6 linked regions of the Homo sapiens genome follow. The protein of the gene in region 3 purifies or fractionates together with the protein of the main gene of each other region. This does not show direct contact. Each region holds a gene or a part of one and is shown on either strand. Other genes may lie near its edges. The genes, in order: EIPR1, STRN, RABGAP1L, CLOCK, RPRD1A and GRIPAP1.

Region 1 (5,573 bases), on a different chromosome or scaffold from region 3:
GGAGAATTCTGTTCAGGTGTAAAGAAAGTGACTTTCCTGTAAACGCCAGCTCACCAAACTCCTTAACTATATCCACGTTGCCCTCAATAAAGCAAAAGTGGTACAGGTGAAGTAAGATTTTCCACTCTCAGGTAAGCTACCTCCCTTCAAAGTCTACACCAGATACAATGTTTAAGTGACCAGCTGGACAATGAAGTTTCCACGTATCCGGTTCATGTAGCGCTATTCACCTCTCTCCCCACAGTCCATCAACTTCACAGAGTAGAGAAGGCAATGGAGGAACCTCCAAGAAAATATAGATAAGAGAATCTACACTCACTTCAACTTTTACTCCATTCTGAAACCCTTCTAATGTTGTAACAAAGAGGGGTTTTTCTTTCTATTTTCTTTTAAAAACATAAACCCACAAGGATAGAAGAGCAATGAAGTTTTGGAAGCTGGAAAGAAACAGACCCTTAGAAAGATGGTCACTTGTTTTACTACAAAAATAACACTCAAGAGTGGAGAAAGGATGGTCTTTTCAATAAATGATGCTGGATCAATTGTATATCCATATGAAAGAAAATAAACTTGTATCCTACCTCATAACATACTCAAAAACCAATTCCAGCTAGACTGATGATAAAGACGTAAAGATAAAATAATACAAATCTTTTCAAGAATACATAGTAGAATATCTTCTCAGCCTTGGGACAAGCAAAGATTCCTTAAATGGCAGGAAAAAAAGCTGGATCATACAGAAAAAGACGAATAACATAGAATCTATTAAAATTAAGAACTTCTATTCACCAAAAGACCCTATTAATTGGACTTCATTAAAATTTAAAACTTCTTTAAAATCAAAATGAAAAACTCTGCTTTCAGAAAGACACTATTAAAGAAATGAAGCAGTGGCCGGGCATGGTGGCTCACGCCTGTAATCCCAGCACTTTGGGAGGCCAAGGCAGGCGGATCATGAGGTCAGGAGTTTGAGAGCAGCCTGGCCAACATGGTGAAACCCCGTCTCTACTAAACATATAAAAATTAGCTGGGCATGGTGGTGGGCGCCTATAATCCCAGCTACTTGGGAGGCTGAGGCAAGAGAATTGCTTGAATCTGGGGGGTGGAGGTTGCAGTGAGCTAAGATTGTGCCACTGCACTACAACCTGGGCAACACAGCGAGACTCCATCTCAAAAAATGAAGGAAGGAAGGGAGGGAGGGAGGGAGGGAGGGAGGGAGGGAAGGAGGGAAGGAAAGAAAGGAAAGAAAGAAAACAAAAGAAAAGAAAAGACAGACTGGGGGAGATATTTATAATACATATATCTGACAAAAGGCCTGTATCCAGAATAAATATAAAGACCTCCCACAGCTTAATAATGAAACAACCCAATTTTTTTAAATGTACCTTACGCCAAATCAGACACTTCACAAAAGAAAACATATGAATGGTCAACAAGCACCAGAAAAGATGCTCAACATTATTAATAATTGGAAGGAGGCAAAGTGAAACCATGTGAGACTCACCACACATCTTACTAGAGTGGTGAAATTTTCATTTAAAAAAGACCAACAATAGCAAGTATTGGCAAAGATGTACAGTAACTGGATCTCTCACGGATTGTGAAAAAAGAGTGTAAAACAGTACACACATTTTGGAAAACACTTTTGCAGTTGAACATTCACTTACCAGATGACCCAATAATTCCACTCTTAGAAGAAGCTGTCACAAAGCTTGGCTTGTTGATAATAAGCTTTGTCCAGCTTTCTGACTTGGGCAGTTAAACCCAGCCCCAAGTAAATGTGGTCGGGTGACGGTATGTAACTGCCAGAAGTCAGGGGGTGGCAATTATCATAATGACCAACGAGACCAGAGTGCCGGCCAAGGAAGCTCAACTGGCAGAGGGCTGTGGAGACAGTTAATAGAGTTGGTATTCCTAGGGGTGAAACAGACAAGGCATTCAAGGAGAGTACTGCCTGCCTGACACATGCACACATGAGTGCAAACGTACATAACGTACATACATATTAAAAAGAAAACAAGAATGAATGAGCAGAAGGCTGAGGGAAGTCACCCCACTCACAGTCACAATCCCTTACCCAGATCCAGATTTGAGGCAGCTTCAGAGCTGGAACCCACTGACGGTAAAGATGGTCAGATTCCCCACGGGTTAGGAACCTGCAACCCTAGGGCAGGTGTACACTGCAATGATTACCCTAGTCTGTACCCAAAGGGACCCACGGCCATTTTCCTGAATGCCATTCCCTGGGCAAAGGGTAATCCCCACACATTTCCAGGTCTGCTGAACACAAAGACACGCACAGGGGTCCAGCAACCCAGTGTCCCACTGTCCTCCGGCCCGAGTGGGGCATGGGGATGCCAGGTGATAAGTAAAGTCCTAGGCAGGGCCTGGCTTACCGCAGATCCTCTGAGTCTGTGGGCGCACCTGGTGGGCAACTCCAAGGTCTGTTAAGGTCAAATGGGATTGACATCCTGGGCAGTTTGTGAAATACCCATACCGGGCCTGTGACCTGTGGAGTTAATGGGAAGGTCACATAGAAGCCTCTGAAACTGCCTCCCCGTCCCAACCCATCAAAGAGTGGTAGAGACCTGCGCTTACTTTAAGAATCAAGGATATGAAGTGGGTGTGGCTTTGCTGAATTCACCATTGGCTTCTGCAGAAAGCTAATGGGCCCTGGAGAATGCCTGTGGATGACTCTAAGCTCAACAAAGCAGGAGCCCACTCAGATCCACAGTGCCAGCTGTGGAGTCTTGTTAGAGCAGATTCCCAGGCCCTCAGGCACATGATGTGTGTACACAGACCGTCAAATGCACGCTGTCCTATCCCAATGAAGAAAGAAGATGAGAAACCATCCGCATTCACAAGCAAAGGAAAACAGTATACACTCTTGCCACAGAGCTGTGCTGGTCTCCCATTTTCTATCATAATATAGTCCAAACAGACCTGGGCAGCCCACAGAACATCACATGGACCCACTGCATTCATGACATTACAGTGACAACGTAGGAGGAGCGTGCAGAAGACCTTGGCAAGACGGCAGGAAACACAAGCTATGGCAATTCCAGGACCTGCTACTTCTGCTGAGGACACCAGGACTTCCCCTCCAGAGCAAAAGCAGAAAAGACGCTGTAATGCCTGCCAGCCCTCTTCATTCTAGAGGTGACACATTATACACCTAGGAAGGCTGGACCAGCCCAGATGCTGGGGTAGCACGTAAGGCTGCCAGCTTAGGCCAAGAGGGCACTACAGCAAGATCAGGCTGGGGAGAGGCAGCCCTGCTTCTGGGGACGCCTAGTAGACCTGCTGGTGTGGAAGTTGTCAGTGGTAGAAAGCATGCAGTGTGGACTTTGTGGAGAGCCCGGTTGGAGTCACCACGTGGTCCCGGGGTTCTGGAGCAAGCCATGCCATCTGCAGCACAGAACCATGTCTTTTGATAAACAGCTCTGACCATGCCTCTGGGTCCTGATAATGGAGCTCCTGGCCATGGGGCACCAAGTGCCACGTGTCACTCATGAGAAGAGCTCAGTCATACCCACCACGGCACAGGGTCGGGCAGGGCCAGCAGTGATTGACTACAAAGTAGAGACGGTGCACACAGGACAGAGTCAGGCAGGACCAGAGGGCACCAGAAAACTGCATGGTAGGTGCCCAAACCATACAAGACTTCTCTGCCCCGGACCCTCCCTGCACTCATGCCTGTGGCCATGTGGGAGTCCTGTACTTTTAGCTGAAGAAGGAGAAGAGATCTGAGCTGCTTTACAGATCAATGAGTTCGGGAGAGGGCATAAGCCAAACATTGGCAGGCGCTGTCAGACGGCTACGCTCAGGAGACGGCTGGGAGAGCATGGAGGGAAAGCTGATTGTGAAGAACGGTGATCATGAGGCAGGGCTCCCAGCACTGCTCTGGCCATCCCTGTGGCGTGCAAAAAGTGGCCCATACTCAAGGGCATGGCCAACTGCCTGGTGACTGGTTAGAAGCCTGGAAGTAAAAAGACTGAGAAATTGGAGACCCACCCACAGTATTGCATGTGGCAAGGTGATGCCTGGAGCCCCTTCCATCCTGAGAACAGGAAGAAGTTCATCCGACACTTAGTCCAAGTATGAGTTTGCCTTTCTTGGCTGCAAAAACAAAGCCCTGATGCCCTGACCAGAGACCACCCCTCAACGGCCCCACCACTACAAATAGCACATAATCAGAGAAGCCACAGAACTGCACTATACAACAAGCAGGAGTGGGCCCAGGATCTCCTATCCACATCACATCGCACCACCTAGGTGAGCCGGGTTCATGCAGCAAAAGCATGCAGCACAGTGCGGCCAGCGCCCTCCCCAGGAGGTGGCACGGTGCGGCCAGCGCCCTCCCCAGGACGCGGCACGGTGCGGCCAGCGCCTTCCCCAGGACGCGGCACGGTGCCGGACCCAGCTCCTCTGTCAGTTTCCTTGCCCCAGTAATAGCACACAGAGGCCTGGAACCCAGTATTTCCAGATGGCTCTGTGTCCCCAACAAATGATGCTGCAGCACCATTAACTTTCTAATTAAAAAATGCATATATTTATAGTAATGTTCTGATATGTGTATACATTGTGGAATGGCTAAGTCAAGCCAATTCATATTTGCATTACCTTACATACTTATCATTTTTTGTTGTGAAGACACTTGAAATCTACTCTCTTAACAATTTTCAAGTATATGATACATTGCTAATAACTTCAGTTACCATGATACATTGTTACTAACTGTGGTCAGCAAGACATCCAATAGATCTCTGGAACTCATTTCTCCCCTTAACTGAAACTTTGTATCCTTTCACCAACATCTCCCTTTTCCCCATCCGCCCTCCCGCCAGCCTCTGTTATCACCTGCTCTGCTTCTGTGACTTCAGTATTTTTAGATTCTGCATGTAAGTGAGATTGCGTGGTGTCTGACTCTCTGTGCTGGGTTTATTCCACTCAAGACCTCTAGGTTCATCCTGCTGCTGCGGATGGCAGGATTTCCTTCCTTCTTAGGGCTGAGCAATGCTCCATTTGTACCATGTTTCTTTATCCGTTCATCCGGCTCATTAGCACTGATGGATAGGCAGGCTGCTTCCTTATTGTAATGAATGTCCCAATCATCTTCAGCTTGCCATGCCCCAGAAGAACTGGATAAAGACTTTCCTGTGTACGGCAAATAAGGAAGCTCCAAGCACTGCTAGGGAAGTGTCAAAGGCAGGGGCCAGAGGAGGCTTCCTCCGGGCAGGACAGATGAAAAAAGGGAACTGCAGTGGGTAGAAGCATCAACTATGTTAGCCACGTGCGAGTTCACATGACACAAGAAGACAACCTCACCCCCATTCCTTTGCAAAACACTATGAACCAATGCTGTTTTTGTTTGTTTGTTTGTTTGTTTGTTTTGAGACCGAGTCTCGCTCTGTCACCCAGGCTGGAGTGACCATCTCGGCTCACTGCAACCTCCGCCTCCCGGGTTCAAGCGATTCTCCTGCCTCAGCCTCCTGAGTAGCTGGGATTACTGGTGCCGCCACCATGCCCAGCTAATTTTTGTATTTTTAGTAGAGACGGGGTTTCTCCATGTT
Region 2 (5,573 bases), on a different chromosome or scaffold from region 3:
TTGTGCCACTGCACTCCAGCCTGGGCGACACAGCTAGACTCCATCTCAAAAAAAGAAAAAGAAATCTATACTGTGACACATCATAATGAAACTACATAACACCAAAGACAGAGAAAATCTTAAATGCAACCAATAAAATAAGCTAGAAAGCAGTAAAACACAGTAAAATCTTTATGCCTGTTATCTAAAAAAAATAAATAAATAAGCATCAGTGTGGCTCTGCTTACCTCAGAAGGTTGTACAGTTTAAATGGTACAGTGTATCTGAAAGGGCTTTAAAGAAAACTGTAAAGAGTGCTGGCTGTAGCAGTACATATACTCAAATTGGAATGATACAGATGATTAGCCTGGCCCCTAGACAAAAAATATGAAAAAATAAAACTGTAAAGATATCTGGAGATGTAAGTGACAGCTTGTACAAAACCTATTTCATTCTTGGTCATTCAGCCTCCCTCTGAACCTCACTTTACCTAACTGAGCTGATTATTTCCAAAGTTCATTCCAGCTCAAAGATTACTCTGTCATTACATCTCAGTCAGAAGGAGGTGATTCAAATTATAATATTCTACTGCCTAAAAATAAAATGCTATCATCAGAAAGAACAATGGAAAAAGAAATTATATCCCAAATTCTATAAAAAGCCATCCATATAGGGAATACTAATAAAAGTGTTGAAATCACCAAACTTTTATAGATAATGTAAAAACAGAAAAAAACAACTAAAGCAGTGGTTCTCAATCCTTGCTGTATACTGGGGAGCTCAAAAAATACTAATGCTAGGGGTCCTCATTCCTAAGATTCTGATTTAATTGATCTGGGGTAGAGTCCAGGGAATTAGTATTCATTCCCTCTGATTATTCTAAGATTATAGCTAAGGTTGAGAAACACTGAACTGAAGAGACAAATAATAGGATACGTTTTAAAAGATTAAAGCCTCTATAACCTTTCTAAAATATAAAGATTATGAAATTATCAAGAATATGAGTAGAATGAAAAATGAACCTGCTGACAAAATTATACCATATGACAATGGAGTTCACCTGCTCCACATGTAAAGGAAGTGGCTTAAAGAGCCAAATAAAATGTAGGATTCATTTCATAATGTGGTTAGTAAATTTACACAATTTGTTACCCATGATGTAATGCAAAGTTAAGATAAACACATTCAGAAAAGTTTATATGAATTTCAAGGTAACAGATACCTACTGGGTTATTAAAAGGAAAGCAAATACACTTGAAGTATATCCTCAATGTTCTGAGGCTGACACTGAAGGCAACCATTCACTCCCATTAAATATCTCTTAGTGCCTGGGTCAGACCCAGAATATTACACTGCATGGCCTCAGGATGGCACTTGTATGCTCCAGCCTCAGAAAAGTTCATGACTGAAGATTATGCTTTTCTCTGGGGATGAGGAGATAACCGAGAGCAAAAGTTTAGCATCATGCATCTGCAACCATTTATTAAGCACTTACTTTATCTTATGTACCATGCCTCTGCTAAGTACTTTAAATTATCTTAATTTAATTCTCACAAGGTAATTTATTATCCTTAACTTACACATGAGAAAACTAAGGCTCTGAGAGATCAGAATTACGGCAAATATGTATTTTAGGCGTAAAATACAATAGTAAGTTTTAAAGCAAGAATTTTAAACCCAGGTCTCTGCCATATTGCCTTTTGTGATAATTATAAATAATAGTCACAATAATAAAGACAAACTCATTTTAAGTATTTATGTTTTCCATTAAAAAGCTCAGTAAATCTTCTCAGCTGTCCTATGAGGCTGCTCATTCTCTCTATATCCATGTATTTTTGTTTGTTTGTTTGTTTGATTGATTTGTTCTGAGACAGGGCCTCACTCTGGCACCCAGGCTAGAGTGCAGGGGCATGATCATAACGCAGTGCAGCCTTGATCTCCAGGGCTCAAGCAATCCTCCCATCTCAGCCTCACGAGTAGCTGGGACCACAGACGCATGCCAACGCACCCAGCTAACTTTGTGAATTTTTTGTAGAGATGGGGCTTCACCATGTTGCCCAGGCTGCACTTTTTTTTTTTTTTTTTTTTTTTTTTTCTGAGACAGGGTCTCCTTCTGTCGCCCAGGCTGGAGTGCAGTGGAGTGATCATGACTCACTGCAGCTTCAACCTCCCAGGCCCAAGCAATCCTCCCACCTCAGCCTCCCAAGTAGCTGGGACTAACCCGGCTAATTAAAAAAATTTTTTTTTCTGGAGATGGGGTTTTGCCATGTTGCCCAGGCTAGTCTTGAACTCCTAGACTCAAGTGATCCTCCTGCCTCAGCCTCAATCCCAAAAGTACTGGGATTACAGGATTACAGGTTTTGAGCCACTGCACCTGGCCCTCTAAAAACTGTTAAGTCATCTTTGACTCCCCTTTTTCTCAAACCCCACATTCTATCCTTTAGCACATCTTGTTGGCTCTACCTTTAAAAATGTATTCAGAATCCTGTATTTTGAATACGTATCAAATACATATTCACATATCTTATCACTACCACCTTAGTTCATCTTCTGCCTGGATTTATTAAAGTAGCCTCCTAACTAGTCCCCCTGCTGCTTCTACTTGTTTTCCCTCCAAGTCTGTTCTGAATCCTTACAAGGGGTCCCTTTTAAAGATGGTGTCACTCTTTTGCTTAAAACATTCCGACGGCTGCTCAGCTTGCTGAGGTATAAGGCCAAAGTCCTTACAATGGGCAAGACCCTGTCTGACATGACTTCTTCCATTAGTACCTGTTTGACATGACTTCTTCCATTCTCTTCCTCTACTCTAGCCACTTTTCCCTCCTTGATATTCCTTAAATATTCCAAGCGTGCTCCCTTCCCCCAGCTGTTCCTTCTGTGTAGAAAGCTCTTTCCTCACCTTAGAGATCACCTTTTCAGGTCTTAGCTCGAATGGCATCTTATCAGTGAATCCTTTCTTCCCCATTCCACCCTCTCAAATCCTCTTATTTTCTTTCCCAACATTCTATGTATTTATTTATCACTGTCTGCCTGCCTCAACAATTTAAGCTTCATAAGGGCAAGATCTGTATTTTTGCTGTTGTATCTCCGGTATCTAGAACAAGGTCTGGCATGAAGTAGATGCTTGAAAAATATTTGGGGAGTGAAAATACAAATTATTAATGCCAAAACCCAGAAAATACAAGTTATTAATGCCAAAACTCTAGCATACAGCCTCCACACCACATGCCCTAAGCTACTCAATCTTGCCACCTTTTTCATACAACTCTAACACTTACAGGTAAATATCAGGGCCTCTCCTACACCACACACCACACACATATCAAAATCTAGGGCCAACATTTTTTATTTTTTATTTACATGCCTGCTTTCTCATAAGTCAGTAATTTTCAAATACTGAGCCTTAGGTTCTCATGAACTCATAAAGTTCTTTACTCCTGCTATTCTCCCCATTCACTGCTGGCTCTTCTCTCCTTCACTATTCTTTTTTTTTTTCTTAAGATGGAGTCTCATTCTGTCGCCAGGCTGGAGTGCAGTGGCACGATCTCAGCTCACTGCAACCTCCGCCTCCCAGGTTCAAGCGATTCTCCTGCCTCAGCCTCCAGCACACACCACCATGCTCAGCTAATTTTTGTATTTTTAGCAGAGACAAGGTTTCACCATGTTGGCCAGGACGGTCTCGATATCTTGACCTCACGATCCGCCTGCCTTGGCCTCCCAAAGTGCTGGGGATTACAGGTGTGAGCCACCGCGCCCGGCCTCTCCTTCACTATTCTAAAGAAATTAGCCTTCTCCCCAAATGATAAACACTCTGATTCTTCTACAAGTTATATCGTACTAATAACTAGACTGCATGTTTCTTTGAGGTCATCTAGCACAATGCCTCACATACAGAAATTTTTCTCAAATATTATTAGTATTCCTTCTCCAATTCCTTTCACAAATGTAAAGCTCACTAATAATCTTAATCATTCTTTTTTTCCCCCCATGAACTACTGCCTAATCTCAACTGGATGTGAGGAGGGGAGCATTACCAAAAATAAAAAGAGAATTTATCAAATAAGATGAGCAAGAGTGAAATAAGTGACAAATAAATAGGTTTTTGCTATAACGTGGCCCTTTCCTTACTCCCAAGATCTGAAGGAGGGAGGAAGCAGTAAAGGCAGGCCAGGCAGATGAGAGCTTGGATTGCCTTTCACAAGTCTTCCCTGGCAACCTGAAAGAGCAGGACTGACAGGTTCTTGAAGAGGCAAATTTGACTTCATCTTAAAGGTATTTGTGTTGACTCTGGTGTTAATGGCTTAGGAAGAGATTTAAAAATTAAAAGGAGGACACCAACTGAGCCGTATTTCATCACAACGCATTCAACTATTTTACTTCCTATTGTGTTTCTAAGAAAATTCCAGTAGCAAAAGAAAAATAAAGAAGATTCAAATGTAACGATGGTAATAATTTTTTTTCCAATTACACTAATAAGGGGGGACAAAGACCAGAGATTACTGCAAACTCTTCCCCCCAAAATATATCATATTCATCCTGTTAGGAAAATGACACATTTTTAAAGTTTCTCTGTGGAAACTTTAATTGGAACACAAAACAGAAAATGCTGTCAAAAAAGTAGTGTCCTTGGCCGGGCACAGTGGCTCACGCCTGTAATACCAGCACTTTGGGAGGCTGAGGCAGGCAGATCACTGAGGTCAGTAGTTCAAGACCAACCTGGCCAACATTGTGAAACCCCGTCTCTACCAAAAATACAAAAATAAGCCAGGCATGGTGGTGCATGACTGTAATCCCAGCTACTTGGGAGGCTGAGGCAGAAGGATTGCTTAAACTTGGGAGGCTGAGGCAGAAGGATTGCTTAAACCTGGGAGGCGGAGGTTGCAGTGAGCTAAGACTGCACCACTGCACACCGGCCTGGGCAACAGAGCGAGACCCTCTCTCCAATAAAAGGAAAAAAAAAAAGGAGTCTCTTTAATATGATAAGCACCCATGGGAAAGCTACCTGAAGTTAATAAACATTTGCCACAAACAACCCAGGAAGGGGTGTTTGGAGATGTGTGCATAAAAACTGAAGATCAACTACAGTTACCAGTAAATTGAAAAGTTTAAACGAGGAGAGGGAGTGAACGGGGCGGGGCGGGGGGAAGGATGGGTTGGAATTCCCCAACTTCTACAGGTAGAAAGGTAAGCATTGTTTTCTGGTGTGTGTGTGTGTTTTGTTTTTGTTTTTTTTTTTTTAACCAAATTAGTGTGAGTTATCTATATTCCCAAAACTGGAAAAGAAATTAAATTTTAAGTAACTAATACAAAAATCATTCCCCACAACTGCACAACATTAAAGTTAAACTTTGCCTTTAACATTTCCTTGAATCCTGAAATCCACACCTTTTATAGAATGCGCTGCTAATAAAGATCAATCTGTAAGTATTCAAATTTGTTGGAGACTATATAAACAAGGTCAAAGAAGACTTGCAAATATCAGATAGACTAGATCGACTAAATACTACAGCAATATAACAATAGGAATGAAAAAGTTGCCAAATAATATAAACATGTAACTACAGACTTACAAGGAAATCATAGAAACTACTGGT
Region 3 (5,573 bases):
CTTTTAAAGAGACAAGGTCTCGCTCTGGCGCCCAGGCTGGAGTGCAGTGGCTCAGTCCTAGCTCACTGCAGCCACGAAGTTCTGGTCTCAAGAGATCCTCCCACCTCAGCCTCCTGAGTAGCTGGGACCACAGGCACATGCCACCAAACCTGGCTAATTTTTTGTTTTATTTTTGTAGAGTCAAGGGTCTCACCATGTTGCTCAGGCTAGTCTCCAACTCCTGGCCTCAGGCAGTCCTTGCGCCTCAGCCTCTCGAAGTGCTGGGATTACAGGCCTGAGCCAACGGTGCTTGTCCCATTTTTTTTTTTTTTCACCTGAGTTATTTGATGGGAATTTCTATATATTACAGTTGCGATGTTCTGAGAATTTTTGTTTCTTTGATAATTGTTTCATGATTTAGATGTTTTCTTTTTACGCTGGTAGTTATGATTTTTTTTTCCTTTGAATGAAAGAATTTTATTAGGCATGTGAAACAGGAGTTTTCATGTGATCAGCTCTCCAGTTCTAAATTTGTGACTTTTAAAAAACTTGAATTTTTTTCTTTGCCTTAACCCAAACTTGAATTTGCTCAGCCATTGTATATTTATTTGAACTCTCAGATGATACAGCATTGAAGCAGAAAGTCCTTTTATCCATGCTTTTGGAGTAATCAAAAGAAGGAATTCTGTTGTGCCAAGTAAAAATATGTGTGGGAGATAGCTAGGCTTCAAGAGATTGACTTTGAAGAGAGTAGTGGCTAAGTAGCAAAAATTTCCTATATTGAAGGTGTAGAAGTGGGCCTGCATTCCAACCTACCATTGTCTTCAAGTGGGGTATGGATCATTATGACTGGTTAGAGGGGGTTTGGAGAATGAAGTTGTTGCTGTAAGCCTATGGGATTCCCAGGCACAGAGCTTGCTTATGTCTTAATTTTAATGAGTTCTATATTTTTATAACTCTTGACTTATATAAATGGGTCAGCCGTTGAGTCTGAGGATGACCAGCAGCCCAAGGCTATTCCAGGTGCTGGTATTTCTTTTTTTTTTTTTTTCTCTTTCTGTTTTTTTTTTTTTTTTTTTTTTTTTTAATTATACTTTAAGTTTTAGGGTACATGTGCACATTGTGCAGGTTAGTTACATATGTATACATGTGCCATGCTGGGAATTGAACAATGAGATCACATGGACACAGGAAGGGGAATATCACACTCTGGGGACTGTGGTGGGGAGGGGGGAGGGGGGAGGGATAGCATTGGGAGATATACCTAATGCTAGATGATGAGTTAGTGGGTGCAGCGCACCAGGTGCTGGTATTTCAAAGATGGCTCAGGGGTTTCTTGTGGAGATGATCTGATGAGCATTTTGCCATTACAAACAGTGGAGGCGGAGAAAGTACGGACTTGAGCCTGAGTTATGGTAAAACATACTCATTTTTAAAGGAGAGTTTTAATGCTGATATTATAGAGAAAGACATTGTTTGACTCCTAGACTTTCAGAACGGGAAATAATTTTGACTTTATAGTCAGTATTTGAATTGGGTATAAGTATGTGAACATCAGTGGACCCTAATAAGGAAGAGTTAATGAATTAAGAAGAGCTTGCATCTCTGAACATCTTCTTTTTATACTTCGTTTACTTCCCATATTGCTCTTATTCAACAGATGGGATGGCATAATTGGGTATACGAAGTTTATGCGCATGCTAACTCTTTTTTGTTATCTTTTGGTGTTTTTTGGTGTACTTTTTGGGGATTTTCCTGGGAAAGTTCTAGGCATATATTCAGTTGATTTAGAGTTAGATTTGGGCTAAGATTATTAGTATACTTGAAATTCTGAGCCTTCTTATTTTCTAAATAGCTTTTAAAGTAGAAAACATTTGCCAGTGCTGTTGGGCTTAAAAAAAAAAAAAACCCAACAACAACACAATTCTTTATAAATACTCATGAAAAATCTGGTTACAGGCTGTGTTGTGATAGACATAGTACAGCCAAAAATATATTTAAGAAAATTCTCACCCAGTTTAGTAAGCTTAAATAAGAGGAAAATAAGACAGTTTTTTTTTTTAATAAAAGGCTGATTTTCCCAGAATATGAAGCCTAACAACTGTTTGCTGTGTTATTTTCCCTGTTGCCTGTTCTAAATTCAGCAAGAACTATGCATCCCTAGTCCATGGTAAAAGCTTAGTTCCAGTAGGTGATTCTTAGTAATGGAAGTCTCATTGAGGGATGCAAGGGAATTTGATTGGGAAACATCAGGCATGGAACATTTACTTTTTACTGCTCTAATTTTCTGTGTATCTGGGTATTCAGTGGGGTGGGAACATGAGCACAAATACTAGAATTATCTGGATTTTTTTTTTATACTATGGATTTCCTCCTCTTACCCCCTACCTGCCCCCCAACCCATTGCTAAGTGAGCCATTGATAGTAGGAGTGTGTTATATCCTTCAGGTATGTAGGGCTGAACAAATGCTAAAAACCTTGGCACTTGGCTGATATTCCATAAACCAAATTCCTGCTCTGTGTAATTTGCCTTCTGGTGATATCAGTTTGTTACTCCCATTTTTGAAGAAAAATATGAATTGTGGTGAAGAGACATCTGTAACCAAGAGTAAGATTTATCAAATTATGTAGTATACATGAAGGACACCAGGAGATTGTTTACCTGAACATTTATTAAACTCATTTGACTGTGACCCACAATAAAAAATACATTTTACTACTTGATTCCGCAAGCGCACACACACACAAAGTTGAAAGTTTGGTGAAATAATATTTATCTTTTCAGGGCCCTACTGAGTTAGCTATAATGGCTTGCAAGACCAGTTGTGCATATTTCTTCCTATCTAGCTCTTTGTCCAGTGACATCATGTTGGTAGCTCAAAATTGGTCATGGTGGGAATATTTACACCAGGAAATTCAGCAAATGGTATTCTTAGGGCTTCCCTCCTCATAGGTAGTTGTTAAACATTTATAGCACCCCACTGCTTATAACACACATTGATATATTCTGTTATTTCATTTCATTTTAAAAATGCTGGGTTTTGACTTCCAAATTAATTTTACACCCAGCTAATGGATTATAGCCTACATTTAACAACAAATACAACTAGTTTAGCCTACCCTCTTAACTTTGTAAGTGAAGGAACATACTAAGAGCCTCAAGGCCAAGGTCAGATAGTGAGTTATTAGCAAAGCCAGGGCTCTGGACTCAATCTGGAGTTGTTTCTGGTGGGCTTCTTTCCTAACCTCACTTAGTGTGTATAAGGGATTGTGTTAATCAGTTTGAATAAAGATGGACCTTGACCCTGAGGACTTTATGCTTAGGTGGGGGATTAAATATGGAAACAACAGTGATAATGAAAGGCAGAAAGTAATGGGTGGTAAAAAGATAAAGATAAGGAACTATAAGAGTTTAGAGAGGAGGGAGAGATTACTTTTATTTTTGTTTGTTTGTTTGTTTTTCGTTTTTGACCCAGGCTGGAGTACAGTGGTACAATCTCGGCTCACTGCAACCTCTGCCTCCCAGGTTCAAGTGATTCTCCTGCGTCAGCCTCCCTGAGTAGCTGGGATTACAGGCGCCAACTGCCACACCAGGCTAATTTTTGTATTTTTAGTACAGACGGGGTTTCGCCATGTTGGCCCGGCTGGTTTTGAACTTCTGACCTCAGGTGATCCATCCGCCTCAGCCTCCCAAAGTGCTGGGATTACAGGCGTGAGCCACCGTGCCCGGTCTACTTTTAGTTTTAAGGATAAAAGAAGAGGTGACATTTGAACTACTTTTTTTTTTTTTTTTAATTTGGAGACAGCATCTCACTCCCGTTACTCAAACTGAGTGCTGTGGTGCCATCACAGCTCACTGCATCCTTGATTTCCTGGCCTCTAACAGTTCTTCTGCCTCAGCCCCCAAGTGGCTGGGACTATATAGGCACACACCAACATGCTTGGCTAATTTTTCATTACTTGTAGAGACGGGGTCTCATTATGTTGCCCAGGCTGTTCTTGAACTTCTGGACTGAAACTGTCCTCCTGCCTCGGCCTCCCAAAGTGCTGGGATTACAGTTGTGAGCCACCACGCCCGGCCCCTGAACTATGCTTTGAAGAATGGGTAGGATTTGGACATGTGGAAATAGGACAACTAGTATGAGAGAAAGGCCTTTCTGGGCCAGGGGCCAGGGTGATCAAAGGCATACAAGCATAGACAGGGAAAAATGAGTAGTGAAAGAGCTAGGCAAGAAAGAGTCCGTTAGCACCAGATGGTTAAGAGCCTAGAATGCCAGTTTTCCTTTCTGCTTTTCAGTTTATCTTTCATTTTTGACTCTGGAGTAATCTAGTACTTCTTAACATTGAACAGGATTTATATGTTATGATTAAAATATGATCCAGAGAGCACATAAGTATCCTTAGAGTAGAAGCTGAAGGGAAAAATTATTAGTGTTAGAGAAGCAACCTTGAGTTTACCAATCCTAAAAGTGTTGGAAAGTGAAAAATATTTTATTTGTAAGGAGAGACAGTGTTTTTTTTTTGTTTGTTTTTTGTTTTTCTTCATTAGCGTCAAATTGGCTGTAGTAGAACAGGAAGCAGTTTTGAAAGTCTTTACAAGGGCCTTCTAAAATGTGATTTCTAAATGACTGGATCTTAATTTTTGGAGGCAGGTTTAGTTCAGGCAGAAGGGTAGTTTATACAGATCTGCAGCTAAGCTGAGTAGCTTTTAGAATTTAGGGCAGCAAAGCAGGGTATTTTATACAAAATCCACTTGTAAGGAATTGATGGCTTCTTTATTCCAAGAATTTTCTTAGATTTCAGCATTTATGTCTTTGACAGCCTGTATGACTGAAGATGTTTTGAAGTCTTGGATGGAACTTGCCTTGTTTCACAGGGGAATTGGGTAGCTAGAAATGAAGGTATAAATGCCAGTAAGTTGTGTCTGTTAATCAAGTTGAAGTACTGGTGGCAGTTCTCAAGCTTTTCTGTCTGCTGATGATTTCACACTTACTGCTTCTAATTAAATAGTGTGTAGTCGATTTGAAGAAGCCTTGCTTCTCTTTGACCCACCAGTTCTGTAAAGGTAAAAGCCTTCTTAGAGTGTTGCCCAGGTAACAACACATACAGAGACTGCTTAATAGCTCATCATGGAAGTGTGTGGAAAATTTTGGAAATGTTGGTAAAGAAGTTGCTATAGTAAATAACTACTTGGTTGGTAAAAAGCTGGGCTACTTCTGGATAGTTGATAAAGAGTTTTTGAGATGAGCCGTGGTTCTAAAATAAATATGAATTGTGTCATTGCCACACGATTTTCTTCAGTTATGTAAGCTCCTAATATGTAAATGTTGTCCTACCATTTTAGAAGGTGTCAGCAGTTTCATGTGACCTGTTCCACAATATAGCACACCCCAAACACCACGATAAGAGTTCAAATATGGCATGGCCCAGATGCCTCACACCAGTTAAATGATAAAGCTAATCATGTCAGCACAGTGTTTCTGTTAAAGTTTTTTCCCCCTCTTTTTTGAGGCATGTTAGTTTTCACGAATTGAGGTTATTAGAATCTTTCCAGATTTTCTGCCACCATTTTTTTTGTGTGTGTGGTAAAAAGT
Region 4 (4,327 bases), on a different chromosome or scaffold from region 3:
ATTCCCATTAATAGCCTCACTAAATTGAAGGACAATTCTACAGAAACATCCATGTTATTTGTGTGAGGTATAATAGGAGACCCAGAGCAATTCAGGTTTATGAGCTACTACAAAGGTCCACAATGTAGTCTGCAATTTGAAGAGATTGTGAAAGAACCCAGTTAATCATCCAGCACTGTAGGATGCAGCAATTGTCCTACATGGTAACTCTGTGAGGAAGATGATAGCTACTACTGTGGAGATCTTAAGAGGAGTTTTCAGCTTAAATGCCAAGTTAGAAGTAGCACATGTTGGTAAAAAAGGTCATATTTGTAGTTTTCTGCTATAGGAAGTATCAAAGGGTAGAAAACAATGTCTGTGGATTAAGATAAACTCTGTGGTTAGACAGTCTATATTGCCTTAGATTGTTTGTTTGTTATAAAGAAAGAGTGAGGAATTCTCACTAGTATTTTTTTTTTTTTTTTTGAGAGAGTCTCACTCTGTCGCCCAGGCTGGAGTGCAGTGGTGTGATCTTGGCTCACTGCAACCTCCACCGCCCGGGTTCAAGCAGTTCTCCTGCCTCAGCCTCCCGAGTAGCTGGGATTACAGGCGTGCACTACCACGCCTGGCTAATTTTTTGTATTTTTAGTAGAGATGATGGAGTTTCGCCATGCTGGCCAGGCTGGTCTCGAACTCCTGACCTTATGATCCGCCCACCTCAGCCTCCCAAAGCGCTGGGATTACAGGCGTGAGCCACCATGCTTGGCCTACTAATACGTTTTGTTTGTTTGGAGACAATCTATCTCACTCTGTCACCTGGGCTGGAATGCAGTGGCGCAATCTCGGCTCACTGCAACCTCTGCCTCCTGAGTTCAAGCAGTTCTCCTGCCTCAGCCTCCCAAGTTGCAGGGATTATAGGTGCCCGCCACCACGCCTGGCTAATTTTTTTGTATTTTCAGTAGAGACAGGGTTTTACCATGTTGGCCAGGCTGGTCTTGAACTCATGACCTTAGGTGATCCACCCACCTCAGCCTCCCAAAGTGCTAGGATTACAGGCGTGAGCCACCGCACCCAACCGTTTTTTCTAATAACAACAGAAAAGACAATTCCTCGTAGGGAGTAGCTGGCACCATCATCGTGTAACCTCAGTTCAGGTAGCTTGGTCCCATTACTAGCTTCATATGCGAATAAGAACAGCATCGCATTCTGAGGCACCACAATCTTGTAGCAGGACATAATTCCTCTGAGAATTTTTGGTAAGTCAGACCTAAGCTATAAGGTAAAAATCGCTACTGCAATAGGCTCCATTGTTGAATAAAAGAAAGGGAAATGTCATTGATAGTGATCTTAAAATATTTAATAGTCTTTCTTTAAAATCCAAAATGTGATTCTTACAAGTTATGTGCCACATGAAGCAGGTGTTATTTTTTGAGAAATGCAGGTGATAACTGAAAAACATAGCACTGAGGTATTTTTTATTTTTAAAATTGAAGGAAACAAAGTCTGGATCTAATTATTTTTACATTTACAAAAACTGCTACTGCTTGGCTCTTTTGCTATAAGTTTAGGTTCTGAATACATGACAAGAGTATGGGAAAGAGCAGAATAATAGTACACGCAGTTTTAAAAGCTATGCACATCATAACCTGGAATAATGATTACACAGCAAGAGGCCTGAGTGGAGGTAGGCTAACAACACATTTTGACTTTCTCCTCAAAGGATAGCTTTGAAAAACAAGTGTAACCAATTGTTACACCAAATTAAAATGGCAATATTAAATCGGTAACAAAACGATCCACATTTTATACAATATTGTATTTCCAAACATACATAGGTCATGAAAATCAGAGAACCTAATATAGCACCGTTGAAACCATTCATTATCCTTCATGTGTGTATGCAATTCAGAATTTCGGCAGAAGACAACAAATGGAAAATGCCTTTCGTTTCTATAAATCATTTTGGATTTCAATTAAATCTTTGCCTTAGTAAAGGGTATTCTTATCTCAAGATCAATTAGCCGTTTTTAGCTCCACCGTTTTGGAAGTAAAAATGATGAGCTACATCTACTTTTTAATTTAAAACCAAGAACCAAGCAGTAAGGACAGCAATGTCAAGAATATCACATTGAGAACCACACAGAACATTATAAAGAATTTGGTGCATGTTTTAACAACTACCAACTGATGTTAACAATGAAAAATTTACAAAGGTAAAACTTTTTTTTTTTTTTTGCACTGACTGGTTTCAATACAGCACTGAATTTAACTCATCTTTGGGCTTCAATCTTTACATAGAGTGAATATGAAAATGCCATACTGAGGCCTTCCCCAACTTAAACCATAGTAAAGATTTCAAAATCATTCCAGTATGGTCTGAATGGTAACTGTTCTGGCTGACACATCTTTTTTTTTTTTTTTTTTTTTAAAAAGACATTTCCTGGCCAATTTTTTTGCTTGAAGATGATTGTCTGGTTATACAAGACATCAATCTGAAGGTAACAACTTATTTTAACTTAACTACTGGCATAACCATTGCCAGCAGTGAACTTGCACTAGTCCAAGCCAACTCAAAAACACACATTATAAACATTTGAATGTCATTTTTAAAAGCGATGTCACAGTTTGTTTCCTAAGAAATTTAAAAGCTTTTATTTGAAAACGTATCTTCAGTTTAACCCTCAGAGTTAAGAAATATTTTTTAGATCATTAAATTCAATTGTGGTTGACGTGCTTTAACTACCGTTCTCTAAGTTGTGTGCTATACCTAGCCTGTGGGACTCCATAGCTTCTCTGAGTCCTAAAGTGGAGGATTCTGTTCCAATGCTTGTGAGCAAGAAGGATCCTCAAATGTCTAGGTTTCCAATATTCCAACACTGCTTTACTGGGCAGTGCTGTGTATGGAAGTTTTGTTTTGTTTTCAAAGGACCAAGTAACTTGACACCATATTAAAGACAGCAAACATTTTTTGTAGAAGTTTACAGCCTGTATACATTATTCCGCCAAATTTAAGAACTTTAAATGGATTTTAATATGGATATGATAATGACAGCCATTAAAAGATGCTATTTCTTTTACTAACATTTCCCCAAATGGGCAAAATAGAGGCATCATGTGCCATTGGTTCTGTCATACTGGCCTTTGACTGTGTTGGGGAAGTAATCACACAAAAAGTGCCCATAAAACAAAGAAGGCAGCAAGTGAAACTAGAAAAAGGTTGGAACTGTATGAATCAGATTTGAAAGGAGTTATTTCTAAAATTCTTTCTTAGATGACTTGAGGAGGGAAGTGCAGGGGCATCTGGAGTTGGCCCCTCCACTGCCGTCCTGAAGTAAAGTAGATTCAGACTGTCCGTAAAGATTATCATGAGAGTTGGTGACTGCACCCCAAATCAGAGCCAGTTCCCTAAGAAGAATATGGTGCAAAACAAAACAAACCACACATTAAATACATGACACCGAAATCACTTTGATGAGAAAACAGAACACACAGGTATTTTAAAATATAAATAAATACATTTAGCCATTTTTATTCAAGAACCCCAGAGAACTGCTTTAAAAGCAATTGCTTCTTTGAACCCCTTTCTAAATTCTTTCATAAATACTTACTAGTTTGATTGTCACTTAATGCAGCACCTCAGTGTTTGCTGGTGGTGGTGATGGAATTTCACTTAGTTGTCTCTCCATAAACTATATCCTATTCCACTAAATAATGTTTCCCTGAGGAAACCCAGGCAGCTTACAAAATACTGTTATAAACACTCACAACAAAACCTGCAGAGTATTTTATTTAAGAAAAACAAGGAATGTAGTGTTATGACATAGGGGGAAAAAACTATGCAAAACAGTCACATGGAAAGAAAGTATTTTAATTTTTAAAATCCAAGTTTGCTTAATTTCTTGTGAACTGTTCAACACTGTTTTAAATATCCTGAATAACTGTGCCAACAAAATTCATCCCCAGTGTTTCCACAGGAGACATTAAAATTAAAGACCAAATTATACTATTTTTTTCCTTTAACCAAAGTATTCTTTTTCTCAGTCCTTTTTGTGCAAAAATATTACAAGAGCAATTCAAATGGAAATGCTGAAATGACATGCCAACATTTCAGGGCACATTTAAAACACTCAGAATAATTCTTGAAATTATTATATTCTAAAATGTTACTAGCAATCACTTTTAGATTAGTTCTGTACATCTACTCACACGGATGCAATTTTCCTAGACCTCTGAAAAATAAACAGGCTCATTGGTCTCTTTTGGTGTCCACACAATAGGCAAGATAGGTTTACAATAGTGTTTAAATCAAACTAGGCATCTACAATCTCTTGACTCCACCACATTCAAA
Region 5 (4,691 bases), on a different chromosome or scaffold from region 3:
AGAGAACTGTTCCTTAATAGCATTGTAAAAGTTCCATTCCAACTGCCAGTGTAGATTTTAAAAGTGTTAAATAGTGACTCCCTTGATTAAACTGTTTGTAATTATTTGAGTAGATTAATAATGAAAATACTTTGGAAATAATATACATTTTGACATTCTACCAAGAGGACAACTTTGGTTCTGGAACTGGTTTCTATTTGTCAAATCAGTTTCCTTTTAACATAATTAATCCCTTTAACAAAAAGCCGTCTATGGGATTAAAAGACACGTGAAATGATACTTTTATTATTCCCTTGCTCATATAACTTTAAAAATAATACTTTTAGCTCTAATAGCTCAAGAACACAATATTCGTTAATGTTCAGTAAAGTAGCCTGAGACATTTTCAATGTTTCCTTAAGGTTTTTGAATGACTGTATATTTGGCAGTTAAGCAGTGCCACACTACAGGGTAGATATGGTAAATTTTATATTTGTATATTTACAGTTACAAAACAAATGTACTTTTACCTTTTATTTCTGACCCTGTGTGTTAGAGCAGTTGCATGCTCTCCTGCTGTTAAAAACACATTGTTAAGCTGTGGATTTGTACTCAATAATGACTTAGGATAAACATTTATTTTCATTCATTGCTTTACATACTAGACATTTTTCTTCTCTTTGTAAGTAGATTCAAATTAGATAGTCAATAAAACATCTTGAAAATCCCACAAGCCAATTATGTCTCTCTAGTCTGAATGGCTTCATTGTTTCTTTCTCAGTATTAGAAATTATAGTTACAATGAATTGCATATGAAGAAGGCAGACATTTATTTTTAATAGCCAAGTAGTTCTGCAAATAGTTCTTTTAACAATTTGACCTCTCTCCAAAACAGAGACACATATAAGTAGTGCTCATCCATGCACTACTAATAATACATGGCTTATTCCAAAGTTTTTAGTCAACTTTTGGGACTTGGGGTGCATTTTCTCACAGAAAGAATAGTAGTTAGGTTCCCTAACACTACCGCTGATAGCTCACCTGGGAACTGAATCCACCTAACCATGAATGTCCTTCACTTGTAACGTGGTTCACAGGTTACTAATCATAGATCCTGACCAGCATTTGTAACACTGCTCTAACTAGGACACAGCATGCAGCAGCCACACTCACACCCTGGGATGTCTGTGTACCTCTGTCCCTAGGTGTAGGAAATGGAAGAAAAAGATTCAGCCAAGTGGGGAGGTGACAGATGCACAATTATGAAACCTGGTTGTACATGTTATGAAAGTATACTAAGTAAGTTAGTTTTTATTATTAATGTGAAAGCAAAAACTTGTATGTTAACTTATTTTCAATATCTTGACCTTATTTATGATCTGCTAAAGTGGTGATTTATCCATTCAAAATATATATTTTTTTCCATTTAAAACTAATTTATAAACTATGTACTCCTGGGAAGATTTGAAATCTTTTAGAAGTTTGTTGAAATATTTTCACCATTTCAGACAGACTTCTGACTTAGATACTGATTTTAATGCCAGTATCTGCTCTAAATATTTATGATAAAAATGCATTATTTTTTTAAAGAGCTTGATGAGATTTGTGATAAGTGATAGTACTCAAAAACCTGAATCCCACCCCTCGACCAATCCTCCACAAACTTCAGTTGTTGGTTAACGTATTAACTGAACACAGACAATACAGTCTGATTTAGAAGTCATCTTTTCAGCCGTGTGATAATTAACATGGTAAGCCTTAGCAGCAAACATTCTTCCTAAAAGGAAGACTTCATTTTCTCAAGAAATGGGATTAGTTGGGGGTATTATAATACCAAATTGTAAATCATGAGCGTTTTCTCCACTGTGCACCTGAGGCAGATCATGCATCTTTGAGTGCAGTTTGGTCTGACCCCTCAAGAGAAAAGCATGGTGCCGTAGGGCTGCTATGGTTTGAATGGATGCCATCACTCTTTTCTCCACATACAGTGCAGAGAGCTGTCTGGAGTCACAATCTGAACAGATTCTCGGGCGCTCCTTCTCTCCTTCCATCACTACAGTAAGTAAAAGGACCATAGAGGGGAACCAGGAATCTGAGAATCAGCTGTGCTCAATAGCCAACCTCCCTGTCCAGATGCAGCTATTTTGGTATCTCCTATCACATGCACTCTGAATCAGGGTTTTTCTATAAGAAATCTTTCAGAATCAGCAAAAGTGGGGATGACCCAGGCATCTTGATTTGCAAAATCACAAAACTAAGTTGTCAGTTATCACTGTAGATGAGCAACTCATCTTTTTAAAGTATAGTTACTGAACTGATTCTGAGAAATCTTTAGAGAGAAAAAACTCAACAGTACAAATTAACTAATTGGGAAAGTTAGAATGTCCTTTCTGAATTTTTCATTAAAAAAATTACATTATCTGAAATAACATAAAGCTACTAAACTGCTTTGTATTCTATTAAGAAATAGCTCCTAAGGATGTAGTCTTGTTTCATAGTTGTTGCACTATATCAAAACTTAAAATGTAAGCCCAGTTCTTCTCTGTATAGAAAGGAAACATTGTGTTACTTAATGAATTATTTATACAGAGCATTTGTTGCCAACTGTTGTTCCAGCCATCCACACAGGAGTCTGTTCTGAGGTGGCAATAGCACATGGGAAGATGAACTTTCCCTGTTTGTTTACCCGTTCTTCTTTGGCTGTATCTGATGACAGTATAAGATGTTCTTAATAAAGTTTTATGTTCTTTTTGAAATGTGTAGGTTGTTTTGTGAATCTGATTCATTGGATATGGGGTGGGAAGGGGAAAGATTAATGGACTGGGAGGGAAGCAAAGTACTGGAAATAATTCTGATGTTATGGTAGAGAGACTGCTGAAGGAGGAGATTTACTTGGCCAGTAGTTCCCAAACTTGAGCGAGCATCAGAATTACCTAGAGCCAGTTTGTCCAACCTGTGAGCTGCACGTGACCCAGGACGGCTTTGAGTGTGGTGCAACACAAATTTGTAAACTAAAACATTATGAGATTTTTTTTTTAGCTCATTAGCTATCATTAGTGTATTTTATGTGCAGCCCAAGACAATTCTTCTTCAGGGTGGCCCAGGGAAGTCAGAAGATTGGACATCCCTGACCTAGAGGATTTATAAACTACAGATAGTTGGGCCCCACTCCCAGAGCTTCTGATTCAGTAGGTCTGGGGTAAGGCCTGATGGTTTACAGTTCAAACAACTTGATGCTGATGCCACTGGGGTTAGGGACCACATTCTGACAACCACTGCTCTAAACAAATTCCAGGTAATAAGATAATAAAGTATGGTTTTTATAATTATATAGCAAGTTCCTTATGGGAAAAGAACAAGATCACATATTCTTTTGTGGTCCACTGCTTAGTAGTGCTTTATTAAGTGCTTTTGAGTGAACAGATTCAATTGGTACTGTCAACCTCCTGGAGCCCATGCCCTTTTACCACTCCTTGAATTTAAAGCAAAACTGAAGATACTAGAAATCTGTGAGAATCTCCAGGGCAGTGTGTGCCATACTTTTTGGTAAACTCAATTGGAGCATTTACAAAAAGGATACATACCTACTGAGAAAATTTTCTGTGATTCTTACCATCATCTAAAAAGTTGGGGAAATGTAGTCCTCTGGCCACAGCACCCCTGGTTCTCTATTCCTGGGTGGCATCTGGTCACTTTATCTGAATTCAGATACTTCCCATTCCCATCCACTTTTTTGCTTCTGCAATAGGTTTTATACAGTGGAACCCATACCCAGAGATTCTGTTTCAGAAGATTTGGGATAGATGCAGAAATCTGCATTTTAAACAAGCTACTCAGATGATTCTAATGCAGGTAATTCATAGACTGCACTTTGAGAAACATGCCCTACAAAGCAATATATGGTCTATAACAGATGATAATGGTAGCTCACATATATGGTACTTACTGTGCACCAGGAACTGTTCCAAGCACCTCGCTTATCCTTTGTGGTAAATACTCTAATTATTCCACTTTTATATCTGGGCAATGAAAATAATGTAAGGTCTGTGTGACTCTGAACGAGTCAGATGGTGAAGATGAGATTCAAACCTGGCTCCAAGTTTGACTCCAAGCTGGTGCTCCTTAACCACTATATGATGCTTCCTCTTACACTGATATGTTCTGTTGCAGCTCCACCATCACCAAGTCTACATTTTGCATAACATTTCATGTGATAGTAAAATTAACGTTATCCAAGTATTCAAGCTAAAAAGCAAGATGTCAGCTAAACGCACTATTGAAGGATGGGGGCTTGTGAGAGGATGTTACACTTTTTTTTTTTTTTTTTTAGTTAAAATGTACATAGCAGGCTTGGGTGCGGTGGCTCACGCCTGTAATCCCAGCACTTTGGGAGGCTGAGGGTGGGTGGATCAGCTGAGGTCAGGAGTTCAGGACCAGCCTGACCAACATGGAGAAACCCCATCTCTACTAAAAATACAGAATTAGCCGGGTGTGGTGGCACATGCCTGTAATTCCAGCTACTTGGGAGGCTGAGGCAGGAGAATTGCTTGAACCCGGGAGGCGGAGGTTGCGGTGAGCCAAGATTGTGCCATTGCACTCCAGCCTGGGCAACAAGAGCGAAACTCGGTCTCAAAAAAAAAAAAAGTACATAGCAGTATATACATATGGTAAGTTGTAACCATTTTTAAATGTACTCTGGCATTAAGTACATT
Region 6 (5,573 bases), on a different chromosome or scaffold from region 3:
TTGTATTTTAGTAGAGATGGGGTTTCACCGTGTTGCCCAGGCTGGTCTTGAACTGAGCTCAGGCCATCCACACATCTTTGGCCTCCCAAAGTGCTAGGATTACAGGCATGAGCCACCACGCCCTTTTTTTTTTTTTTTTTTTTTTGAGACAGAGTATTGCTCTGTCGCCCAGGCTGGAGTACAGTGGTGCGATCTCGGCTCACTGAAACCTCTGCCTCCTGGGTCCTGGTTCAAGCAATTCTCCTGCCTCAGCCTCCCCAATAAAATTTTTAAAAGTTAAAAAAAAAAAAAAGTAGGGATGGATGGCCAGAGAGAAGAGGGCTGGACGCCAACAGAAAGGAGCAACAGAAACAAAGACAGGAGAACAGCATGGGGTCCAGACCACCCTACCCTGATGTGGACCAGAAGCAGATGGAGATGGGGGAACTGGAGAGGGATCAGCAAGGGCCCCCAGGTGTTCTTTACCTGCTCCAGGGCAGCCAGGCTAGTCCTCAAGGCATTGTTCTCAGCCAAAAGCCCTTCCACTTGTTCCTGTGCATCTGCACTCTGGATGGATACCTGGCCCCACGTCCACAGCAGGTGAGAGTGGGTCCAGAACAGGGGGACAGGACCTACCCACGACCAAGAAAGAAAGGACACACACACACACACACACACACACACACACACACACACACACACACACACACACGAAGGCCTGGGGGAAGCAGGATCCCTGGGACCTTGCCTGACTATGTAGTACCCACTCAGGCTGCCCCCATCCTGAACCCCAGCTCCCTGAGCCCACGCAGTACAATATACCTGATCTTGTAGGGCCCGCAAAGCTGCTGCATGTTCCAGGCGCTCCCCCTGCCGCTGATCTCTCAGCTCTGCCAAGCTCTGTGGAGACCAGGGGAGCCCATTTTACACCTCAGCCTCTCCTGGGGTGCATATAACCGTACAGACTCTCTGTTTGACCACCCAGCAGCATGTTCTCAGCACCTGTGGGTCTCAGACTATCCAGCCAACAGCAATCTCAGGTTCACCCAGACGCCAGGTCACTACCCTCAGGGGCCTCAGACACAGTCAACCCCTCTATCCCAGCGTACAAGATCTCAGGCACGACTAGACTCCTGGCCCTAGCTGCTACGCGGTTCAAACTCACTCAGCTCCCATCCATAAGAAGTCTCATGCTCACCCAGATTCTAGCTTGGGAGCTCCAGGATTCTCAGACACAGTCAGCCCCATGGATCTCAGATGTAGTCAGCACCCAAGGATGACAGTTTCACCCAGCCTCCCAATCCCAACCACCAGGGGTTTCAGACACACTCATCTCCCACGTCCCTACTTCCCAGGTGAGATCCACCCAAACTCATAGTCCCAGATCCTAGAGGTCTCAAACTCACAACCTCCTAGTTTCCAGGTCCTGGTGAACTCTCAGACTGACCCCTTCACCTGTCACTCTGCTCCCCAGTCTCTTGGAATCTTCAGACCCAGTTAACCACCAGTTCCTGGGGGTCTCAGCTTTACCCAGACTCCCGTCTCAGACCCCATGTTCCCAGTTTCTAGGGACTTCAGAACCACAAGCCACCATATCCTCCATTCCAAGGGACCTCAGACTCACCTTTTCTAGAAGGAAACCCAGAGGCTTCAGAACCATCCAGCCCCCAGTCCTCAGGAGCCTCAGACCCACCTAAACTTCTGCTCCAGCCCCTGGAGGTCTCAGACTGACCAGCTTTTTGTTCACAGCCCTCAAGGATCTCAGGACTACCTAGCCCATATGATCCCACTTCCTAGGTGTCTTAGGCCCAAGCCAGCGCCCAGATCCTGAGGATCTCAAATGCACTCAGCCTTCAGCCCCAACTATCTCACCCTTGAAAGTTGTATATCTACCCAGCCATGTCCTCAGCCCTTGGGAGTCCCAAATTTACTGACATCCCAGCCCCTAAAGATTTCAAAGTCACCCAGCACCCAGGGAGTTCAGACTTACCCCAGTTCCTGGTCCTAGGCCCTAGTGACCACAGATTCATCCAGACTGTGGTCTCAAACCTCCAGGAGTTTCAGATTTACACAAACTTATAGCACACAGCCCCCTAAGTCCTTAGCCCCCTGAGATCTTACACTCATGAAGACTCCTATAACAATTCCTAGGGCTCTCCAATTCCCATTTTCCTAGCTCCTGGGGGGCCCCAGAACCCATTTCCAACACAGGAAATCTCAGACTCCCCAGCCAGCCTCCATGGACCTCAGACCTCTCCAGGCTCCCAGTCCTGGCCCCTACCCCAGGGATCTCAGAACCCAGTCCCCATCACCTGATTGGCAGCCTCAAGTTCCTGCTGCAGCTTCTGGGTTCGAGCCAACTGGGCTTTGTGATCAGCTTCCTTCCGTTGTTGTAATTCCTCAATCTTGTTCCTAGGAGTGATGGGGAGGGGGTGTGTTGGACATGGCTTGAGGCCCAGTCTCCTAGCTCTGCCCCTGTAATCTTCACTGGGCACTGTCCCAATTGTCCACCAATACCCGCAAATCTGGCAGTTACCTGCTGTCATTAAACAGAGTCTCCTTTTCTGTCTGCAGACGGCAAAAACTGGGCACAGAAGGACAGATGTAGATGGGTCAGTTCCGTAAGTTAATTCCCCCCTCGGCCCCCAGTACCCTTGGGAAAAAGAAATTTACCTTTCTTGTTTCTTTTTCAGTTTCTCGGAGAGCTGGGGAGAGAGGTACAGACAAGTGATAACATTGAGAATAATATAAAGACAAACCTAAAATTAATAAATATAGACACTTCTTATTAAGTCATTTTTGGAAGCCAGGATTTACTTATGTTGTCTTGTGGAATCCTCAAAATAGCCCTGACAAGTGAGTAGTACCAGTTTTACAAATGGGGAAACAGAGTCTTGGAAAGGTTAAGTAATTTGGTTGCTCAGCGGGTCAGCAACAACAATATTATCTCCACCCAGATCCTTCAGGTTCCAAAGCCCGGTATTTATGCTCCCAACATAGTGGCCAATGGCCATGTTATAGATTGGCTAGGCTGGGAGGCCTGGAAAGCAGGATATCATGACTGGGTGCCGCACCCCTGGGTCTCCAGGTCCTAAGATAAGAGCCAGGAGTCTGTAAATGCTTGCATGAATGAATGAATGAGTGAATGGGCAAAGCTGAGAGATGGATGGGATGAAACTTATCATGCACAAGATATAGTGGGACCACATTAACTCATTCCATACTGAAAGTAACTCTGAGACATAGGTGTGAGTCTCTCCATTTCACAGATGATGAAACCTAGGCTTTGATGGGGTACAATGCCCCTTCTGCCCTAGGATTGGGAATGGAATGGGAAAGAATCCAGCAGATTGGGAGCAGAATGGGAAAGAGCCAAGCAGCCGCACCTTAGCAAGTTCCTCCTGCAGCCTGGATGTTTCGGCCTGCTTTGAGCTCTGCAGGGAAGGATGAGGGATGGGAGGGTTGTTGTTAGCAAGGACAAGGAGAAGCCTTCCCCTGCCCTCCTGCCTCCCTCACCCCATCAGCCCACAAGATGGTGATGTCACAGCCATCTCCGTGGGACTATAGACAGAGGTAGAACATCTGCCCTGCCTTCTGGCATTCCAGCTCCAACAGACTCAGATTCACCTCTAAGCCTTGCAGCTGTTCCCAGAGCAATCTCTTCTCCTCTTTCTCCATTTCCCATTTCAGCTCCACCTCTGCCAACGGCATGGGGGCCAGGACGGTGGGGGCCAGGCCCCCTGGGGGATCCCCCTGGCCCTCACTGACAGCTGAGAACTTCCCGGCTTCTTTCCCATAGCGTTCCTGCAGGGCTGGTGAGTAGAACAGGGATATATGATGGATGAGGTGGTCTCTGAAGTCCCTTGCCATGCCTCGAATAGAGGGAGAACTGGCCTTCAACCCCTCAGGTGGCAGAGTCCCTGTGCCAAATGACCACATGCCTAAAAGACGAAGGTTCAGCTCTATCCATGCCTCTCACATTTTTTTCTTTTTTTTTTTGAGACAGGGACTTGCTCTGTCACCCAGGCTGGAGTGCACTGGAATGATCACAGTTCACTGCAACCTTGACCTCCTGGGCTCAAGTGATTCTCCCACCTCACTCTCCCAAGTAGCTGGGATCAGAGGTGTGTGCCATCATGCCGGGCTAATTTTTTGATTTTTTTGTAGAGACAAGGTCTCGCTACATTGCCCAGACTGGTCTTGAACTCCTGAGCTCAAGCAATCCTCCCACCTCAGCCTCCCCCAAAAATCTTTTTCCGTGGCTGGGCACGGTGGCTCACGCCTGTATCCCAGCACTTTGGGAGGCCAAGGCAGGTGGATCATGAGGTCAGGAGTTCAAGACCAGCCTGACCAATATGGTGAAACCCCGTCTCTACTAAAAATACAAAAATTAGCTGGGCGTGGTGGCGCACGCGCTTGTAATCCCAGCTACTCGTGGGGCTGAGGCAGGAGAATCGCTTGAACCCAGGAGGCAGAGGTTGCAGTGAGCCGCGATCGAGCCATTGCACTCCAGCCTGGGTGACAGAGTGAGACTCCGTCTCAAAAAAATCTTTTTCCCTAGACAGTCTTGCTCTGTTGCCCAGGCTGGTGTGCAGTGGTGCAATCATAGCTCACTGCAACCTCAAACTCCTGGGCTCAAGCGATCCTCCCAAGTAGCTGGGACTACAAGTGCACACCATGCCCAGTTAATTTTATTTTATTATTTATTTATTTGTTTATTTTCTTGAGACTGAGTCTTTCTCTGTCACCCAGGCTGGAGTACAGTGGTGTGATCTCGGCTCACTGCAACCTCTGCCTCCCAGGTTCAAGTGATTCTCCTGCCTCAGCCTCCCAAGTAGCTGGAATTACAGGCATTTGCCATCAAACCTGGCTAATTATTGTATTTTTAATAGAAATGGGGTTTTGCCATGTTGGCCAGGCTGGTCTTGAACTCCTGACCTCAGGCGATCTGCCCACCTTGGCCTCCCAAAGTGCTAGGATTACAGGTGTGAAACACCGTGCCTGGCCTAATTATTTTATTTTTAGTACACACAAGTTCCTGCTATGTTGCCTAGGCTGGTCTTAAACTCCTAGCCTCAAGAGATCCTTCTGCCTCAGCCTCCCAGAGTGCTGGAATCAAGGTATGAGCCACTGTGCCCAGGCTCTCACAAATATTTTAAGCCCTATCAACCACTAAGATTCTGTTTACTATTAAATTAGCCCAAGCTGGTTTCACAAATCCCATTCTCAATCCTTGAAGCCCCACCCATAGCCCTTGAAGGCCATGCCCACCATATGCTACCACTGACTTACAGCTGAATCCCTCCTAGAGCCTCCTAATTCCTACTCACATTCTACTAAGTCTCCCTCCTGGTCATGGAACCAGCATCCATCACCACAGAAGTCCCAGCTGCTCTCCAAAGTTCCACACACCACATGCTCCCACACTCTATCAAGCTTTCTTTCAGCTTTCATCCCAGACCCCACTTACAATCTGGGCTCAGAATCTTCCCAACACTCCATTCACTTTTTCACTTAGCAAATATCTCCTTTTTTTTTTTGAGATGGAGTCTCGCTCTGTCGCCCAGGCTGGAGTGCAGTGGTGTGATCTCGGC

Evidence for each region.
Region 1: the proteins of RABGAP1L (region 3) and EIPR1 purify together in Homo sapiens (affinity purification with mass spectrometry, with the first as the bait; one large-scale study listed by BioGRID). This does not show direct contact.
Region 2: the proteins of RABGAP1L (region 3) and STRN purify together in Homo sapiens (affinity purification with mass spectrometry, with the first as the bait; one large-scale study listed by BioGRID). This does not show direct contact.
Region 4: the proteins of RABGAP1L (region 3) and CLOCK purify together in Homo sapiens (affinity purification with mass spectrometry, with the first as the bait; one large-scale study listed by BioGRID). This does not show direct contact.
Region 5: the proteins of RABGAP1L (region 3) and RPRD1A purify together in Homo sapiens (affinity purification with mass spectrometry, with the first as the bait; one large-scale study listed by BioGRID). This does not show direct contact.
Region 6: the proteins of RABGAP1L (region 3) and GRIPAP1 purify together in Homo sapiens (affinity purification with mass spectrometry, with the first as the bait; one large-scale study listed by BioGRID). This does not show direct contact.

Annotation. Positions count from the first base shown.
Region 1 is NC_000002.12:3,259,319-3,264,891, forward strand, and holds part of EIPR1 (EARP and GARP complex-interacting protein 1), read right to left. Parts: intron 1-5,573. UniProt on the Homo sapiens protein: Acts as a component of endosomal retrieval machinery that is involved in protein transport from early endosomes to either recycling endosomes or the trans-Golgi network.
Region 2 is NC_000002.12:36,959,069-36,964,641, forward strand, and holds part of STRN (striatin), read right to left. Parts: intron 1-5,573. UniProt on the Homo sapiens protein: Calmodulin-binding scaffolding protein which is the center of the striatin-interacting phosphatase and kinase (STRIPAK) complexes.
Region 3 is NC_000001.11:174,161,739-174,167,311, forward strand, and holds part of RABGAP1L (rab GTPase-activating protein 1-like), read left to right. Parts: intron 1-5,573. UniProt on the Homo sapiens protein: GTP-hydrolysis activating protein (GAP) for small GTPase RAB22A, converting active RAB22A-GTP to the inactive form RAB22A-GDP. Plays a role in endocytosis and intracellular protein transport.
Region 4 is NC_000004.12:55,426,589-55,430,915, forward strand, and holds the end of CLOCK (circadian locomoter output cycles protein kaput), read right to left. Parts: 3' UTR 1,315-4,327; downstream 1-1,314. UniProt on the Homo sapiens protein: Transcriptional activator which forms a core component of the circadian clock.
Region 5 is NC_000018.10:35,987,872-35,992,562, reverse strand, and holds the end of RPRD1A (regulation of nuclear pre-mRNA domain-containing protein 1A), read left to right. Parts: 3' UTR 1-2,739; downstream 2,740-4,691. UniProt on the Homo sapiens protein: Interacts with phosphorylated C-terminal heptapeptide repeat domain (CTD) of the largest RNA polymerase II subunit POLR2A, and participates in dephosphorylation of the CTD by RPAP2.
Region 6 is NC_000023.11:48,987,320-48,992,892, forward strand, and holds part of GRIPAP1 (GRIP1-associated protein 1), read right to left. Parts: intron 3,792-5,573; coding exon 3,607-3,791; intron 3,414-3,606; coding exon 3,366-3,413; intron 2,685-3,365; coding exon 2,653-2,684; intron 2,564-2,652; coding exon 2,516-2,563; intron 2,392-2,515; coding exon 2,292-2,391; intron 880-2,291; coding exon 802-879; intron 559-801; coding exon 466-558; intron 1-465. UniProt on the Homo sapiens protein: Regulates the endosomal recycling back to the neuronal plasma membrane, possibly by connecting early and late recycling endosomal domains and promoting segregation of recycling endosomes from early endosomal membranes.